Linked DNA regions of Homo sapiens: region 2 is linked to region 1. Evidence: fine-mapped expression QTL. Tissue or cell type: thyroid. Region 1 holds a variant in brackets; the other region holds the start of a gene. All regions are shown on one strand. Distances are between the middles of the regions.

Region 1 (2,911 bases):
GCACTTTGGGAGGCTGAGGCGGGCGGATCACCTGAGGTCAGGAGTTTGAGACCAGCCTGGCCAACATGGCAAAAACCCGTCTCTACTAAAAATACAAAAATTAGCTGGGCGTGGTGGCACACGTCTGTAATCCCAGCTACTCAGGAGGTTGAGGCAGGAGAATCACTTGAACCTGGGAGGCAGAGGTGGCAGTGAGCTGAGATCACATCACTGTACTTCAGCCTGGGTAACAGAGACTCTGTCTCAAAAAATAAAAATAAAAAAATAAAAGAAGAAGAAGAAAAAAGCCTGCATTGATTTCCCCATACATTTGCACAAGCTGCAGAACTTGGTTCTTTTATCTTCATTTGGAAACAAGTTGAAACAGCCCTCCAAATTAAGAAAACAACTTTACAAATTCAAGTTTTATGTTCTCTTATTTTAGAAATATTCATGGCCTCAATATGTCTCTCCTAAGTACTTATATAAAAACATTTTTCTCTTCCATTTGCCAATTTATAATGATTTTTTTCATTCTACTTACAACAAAGCAATCATTTCAAATTAATTGTTTTCATTAAAATGTATTATTGTAATGTCCCAGGTACTGAATAGTGATTTTGTTTGACAGAACAAGCCTGAAAGAAAAATATTATACATTTTGCAAGTAGACAATTTCAACCCAATTCCTTCCTCTGGCACGAAGCACAGGGGATTTGCACACAGTAGGTTGAGAGAATAACTAGCAACAATAATTATCAGTGTCATGCATCAGGAGAGTACATTTATAGAGGACTTTCAGAAGTGCACAGCTATTTTGCATATGTTATTTCATTTAATTCCAAGCATTCTTCCACGTAGACCTATTTATCTCTCTTTTTTATTTTTATTGAGAAAACCAAGACCCAGAAATGCGAGGTCACTCACCAAAGGTCACACAGTCTCAAGAGGCAGAGCTGTCATTTGACCCTGGGTCTTTCCACCTCCAGATGCACCTGAGCATGGAGTGTGCAGGGGGAGGTGGGGTCTGGGTCCCAGAAGGAGCTGAGGATCTCCTCACTCTCCCTTCCCAACTTGTTTATTCTCCATTCAAAGCACAGTTATTTTCTTTGCAAGACCAACGAGGTTGATTCAAAATCAGAGTCATTTTAACGTCTTAAAAATATCAAGTAGAGCTTAGAAAATTCAAGCACTAGAGGGAAAAAAATTCTCAAGTTATTTAGAAAGAAAATTTACCTTGATTCTGAGGGTCCTTGAGCTTTCTGCTTTTTGCTCCTTTTTTGGGCCATGCTGAGTGGGGGCCGGGGCTGTGGTGGGAAATTGAGAGTTGCATGAGATCTCCAGATGCTTCTCAGCCCCTCAGTGCCG[C/T]GGAGAAAAGAGGAAAACACTCATCTGGACGATCCGTGTCTTGCAGACTCGGTCTCAAATCCTTTGGGGTGAGAATTCTGAGTCCTGGGGGGCATTTATGAGGGAAGCCACACAGAGTGTTCGCTAGTGGGATGAAGAAAGGAAACCAAACTGGGTTCTTTGGTGCAAAAATAAAATAAATTCTTATTTGTTGATATGGTTTGGCTCTGTGTCCCCACCCAAATCTCATGTTGAATTGTAATCCCTAATGCTGGGGGAGGGACTTGGTGGGAGGGGCTTGGATCATGGGGGTGGAGTTCCCCTTGCTGTTCTGGTGGTAGTGAGTGAGTTCTCATGAGATCCAATGGTTTAAAGGGATGTGGCACTTTCCTCCTCATGTGCTGTCTCTGTCCTGCCACCGTGTGAAGAAGGTTCTTGCTTCCCCCCTTGCCTTCCACCATGATTGTAACTTTCCTGAGGCCTCCCAATCATGCTTCCTGTTAAGCCTGCAGAACTGTGAGTCAATTAAACCTCTTTTCTTCATAAATCGCCCAGTCCCAGATAGTTCTTTATAGCAGTGTGAGAATGGACTAACACACTCGTTCATTATTGAATGCTGTGTTCTTGCTCTGGGTCCTTGTGTTCATTTTCCACCGTATTTCCCTCTCCAGGGTGCCCACGCCCCCTCCCCCATCCCATCCTATTACTGTGCTGAACGCTGTCATCTTCACTCTCATAGTCCCACCAGCAGGGCCAGGGCTCCTCCCTACCCAACCAGCACGCCATCAACACACTTCCTAACACGCTTCCCTCTGTGCCAGCCTGCTTACCTCTAGCTCTTTGCTTGTGACATTTTCTCCAACTAGAACACAGAGCAATAACAGGGAGAGGAAGAGCGTGGCTGATACAGCACGTTCCCTGGACCCAGTAGCCATGAGTTAACCCCCGCTGAGGCATTACTGGTCTCGCCTTGGGCATGGCAATCAGCTCTCTGATGTTCATTGGTAACACCCATAAGAAAACCACCTCACAGGCTCAGGATAACACACTGACATGAACCCTCTTAGCTGGCAACTGGTCCACGCTGATGGAACAAAGGTCATCATTTTGTACCTGACACTACTCCAGTAGTGCTGGGTGAGCCGCTCACCCTTCCCAAAGGATGTGGAATTGAGCCCAGGAACAGGTTCATGTCTCCCAGAGGCTGGACTTGTACCTATAGGATCAGGAGCCACAGGAGGCCACAGGGGAACAGAGGCAAAAAAACCTCAGTAGAAGGAGGAATAGAACCTGGTGTGCAGGAAGAGCAGGGAGATGGACGGAGACTCTGGTCACTTCTGATTCTGATCCCATCCCTTCCTGAGGTCCCATCCACATTCCTGCCCTCGCCATGTAGGATACTCCACAAACCCCATAACTGCCTCCTACTTTTCCTTTACTCTGACCCAAGGACCCATGTTTGTTTCTGTTATTAGTGAGCAGATGATTTCAATCAACATCACGAAGAGGGCAGCCAGTGGAGTGCCTGTCACATGATTGGGGCTCAGTGGCCACAGCCTCCTTCCACACCCCACTTCCAGCTTCC
Region 2 (2,911 bases), 24 kb after region 1:
GTTTTAGTCTCAGGTAAACCAGTCTTGGTCATGATTCTCTGTCTTCACCTTTCGGCCGGGCGTGGTGGCTCATGCCTGTAATCCCAGGACTTTAGGAGACCGAGATGGGCAGATCACAAGGTCAAGAGATAGAGACCATCCTGGCCAAGACAGTGAAACCCCGTCTCTACTAAAAATACAGAACTTAGCTGGGCATGGTGGCATGAGCCTGTAGTCCCAGCTACTCATGAGGCTGAGGCAGGAGAATCGCTTGAACCAGGGAGTCGGAGATTGCACTGAGCCAAGATCGCACCACTGCACTCCAGCCTGGCGACAGAGTGGGACTCCATTCCAAAAAAAAAAAAAAAAATTACAGAATCTTCCCCTTACCACCACGTCAATAGGGTTCCAGGATAGTAACAGTGGATTACAACCCAGACAGCTGTAAGACACAGGTTCTTATATAAGAAGTTCATAGGAAACCCCGAAGAAAATGGGGAAAAACACAAGAAAACTAAAGCCCCTGGGATATACAACGACAGCAATCATTACACGCAGTCTAACTCCTGGCCAGATTAATATAAAACCTCACACCAAAAGCCTAATTGCCTCCGTTTTTATTACCTGATGCATCATGTCTGGCTTCTAACAAAAAATTAAAAGGCAAGAGAAAAACACAGAACAAGGCTCAGATATAACAAAGATTTGAAAATTATCCAAAAAGGAACTTAAAATATCTGTGAGTCATTGTTATGGGCTCTAATGAAAAAAGTAAATGACATGTAAATGTAAGCAGAGAGATGAAAACTTTAAAAGAATCAAAAGGAAATGCTAGATATCAAATGCCTCAAGACTCATCTGCGATTCCATCCTCAGCCTTGTCACCCCTCGGTCCCCACCCCACCATGGTGCTTGCTGTGTGTTTTCTTGACCTTGCTGTTCACCTAACCCCCTGGAAGGTGCTGTCCCAACCTCACCTGTGTCCCCTTTCTGGGCTGCTTACCTAGACCACTTGGCCTGGGCTGGCTGTGCCCAGGGGGAGGCTGGGAACATCGGCCGGCTACGCCCTGAGGTAGCTCAGATGCCAGTGTCCCACGGTGAGGACACCTCCGAGGCCGGCTCCGTGTCATCTGCTGGATGGGGCTGAACCCCAGTTGTCCTTCATGGGAATCTTCTCCTGAACCTTGCTGTGTGGGCTGCTTTCTCTTCCTTCCACCAGAGCTTCCTGGATGAAGCCCAGCATAAATGTCTTGTGCTTATCCCCATTCTGGAGGCTTCCAAGCAAGCGTAAACTCTGAAAGGGCAGGGGCCGTGAGTGCTGACTGCTTCTCTGGTCACCGTCTCACGGCCTGCCACAGACCTGTGCAGGATAAGGTGGCTACATGAATAACCAAAGGAAGGCGTGGCTGCTGGAGTGAAGTTGTAATGCACACCTACGTGTTCCAGGAAGAGGAAGTTTAGAGTTCACAAACACATCTTAGTGTTTAGACTTACTTCTGAATGTAAAGGCCCCTAGCACAACAGAAAGGGCATTTAAGGAGAGAAAGCTTAGGAACTCTGACACCTAGGAACTTGCTCTGAGATTTCACCACTCCTGTGTCCTTTCGTTAATCTGCCAGATGTTCCTGATCAGCCAATGTTTGGAAGAAGGGTAGTTACTGGTCTGCAGCAGGGCACTGGGGCAGGACGCGAGGAGGAAGGCACTGCTTTGGGCCCGGGCAAGGGCCAACTATATGTGACCCCAGGAGCTCCCCTTTTCCACCCCAGGGGCCCCACCTTTGTGTCCAGAGGCCCCTCTACCTAACTGTGTCCTGCATTCGTGGGTTCTTGGTCTCACTGACTTCAAGAACGAAGCCACGGACCCTTGCAGTGAGTGTTACAGCTCTTAAGGTGGTGCGTCTGGAGTTTGTTCCTTCTGATGTTCGGACGTGTTCGGAGTTTCTTCCTTCTGTGTGGGTTCGTGGTCTAGCTGGCTCAGGAGTGAAGCTACAGACCTTCGCGGTGAGTGTTACAGCTCTTAAGACGGCGCATCTGGAGTTGTTCATCCCTCCCGGTGGGCTCGTGGTCTCGCTGGCTTCAGGAGTGAAGCTGCAAACCTTAGCGGTAAGTGTTACAGCTCATAAAAGCAGTGTGGACCCAAAGAGTTAGCAATAGCAACATTTATTGCAAAGAGCAAAAGAACAAAGCTTCTACAGCGTGAAAAGGGATCCCAGCAGGTTGCCGCTGCTAGCTTGGGCAGCCTGCTTTTATTCACTTATCTGGCCCCACCCACATCCTGCTGATTGGTAGACCCGAGTGGTCTGTTTTGACAGGGCGCTGATTGGTGCGTTTACAATCCCTGAGCTAGACCCAAAGGTTCTCCAAGGCCCCACCAGAATAGCTAGATACAGAGTGTGGACTGGTGCATTCACAAACCCTGAGCTAGACACAGGGTGCTGATTGGTGCATTTACAATCCCTTAGCTAGACATAAAGGTTCTGCAAGTCCCCACCAGACTCAGGAGCCCAGCTGGCTTCATCCAGTGGATTCCGCACCGGGGCTGCAGGTGGAGCTGCCTGCTAGTCCCGCGCCGTGCGCCGGCACTCCTCAGCCCTTGGGCGGTGGATGGGACTGGGCGCCGTGGAGCAGGGGGCGGCGCTCGTCGGGGAGGCTTGGGCCGCACAGGAGCCCATGGAGGGGGTGGGAGGCTCAGGCATGGCGGGCTGCAGGTCCCGAGCCCTGCCCCGCGGGAAGGCAGCTAAGGCCCGGCGAGAAATGGAGCGCAGCGCCAGTGGGCCGGCACTGCTGGGGGACCCAGTACACCCTCCGCAGCCACTGGCCCGGGTGCTAAGCGCCTCACTGCGCGGGGCCGGCAGGGCTGGCCGTCTGCTCCGAGTGCGCGGCCCGCCAAGCCCACGCCCACCCGGAACTCCAGCTGGCCCGCAAGGGCCGC

Which allele goes with the higher level. Positions count from the first base shown, and alleles are read on the strand shown. Sizes are in standard deviations (SD) of each study's normalised expression.
In carriers of allele C in region 1, the expression in thyroid of the gene that starts at base 1,364 in region 2 tends to be higher than with T alone (small effect, 0.22 SD a copy in GTEx).

The links. PIP is the estimated chance that this variant, and not a neighbour inherited with it, causes the effect.
Region 2: it holds the start of LINC01644, and the variant in region 1 is the best candidate, but not a certain one, in a credible set for the expression of LINC01644 in thyroid (GTEx, PIP 0.52).

What each region holds. Positions count from the first base shown.
Region 1 is chr22:47,462,103-47,465,013 of GRCh38, forward strand. LINC01644 (long intergenic non-protein coding RNA 1644) reads right to left here. Exons shown (of 3, transcript NR_109967.1): 2 at 1,216-1,286. Among named protein-coding and RNA genes, the nearest start is that of LINC01644, 24 kb to the right of the region's middle. The variant C/T (reference allele first, on the strand shown) is at 1,348.
Region 2 is chr22:47,485,748-47,488,658 of GRCh38, forward strand. It overlaps LINC01644 (long intergenic non-protein coding RNA 1644), which reads right to left and starts at 1,364. Exons shown (of 3, transcript NR_109967.1): 1 at 983-1,364.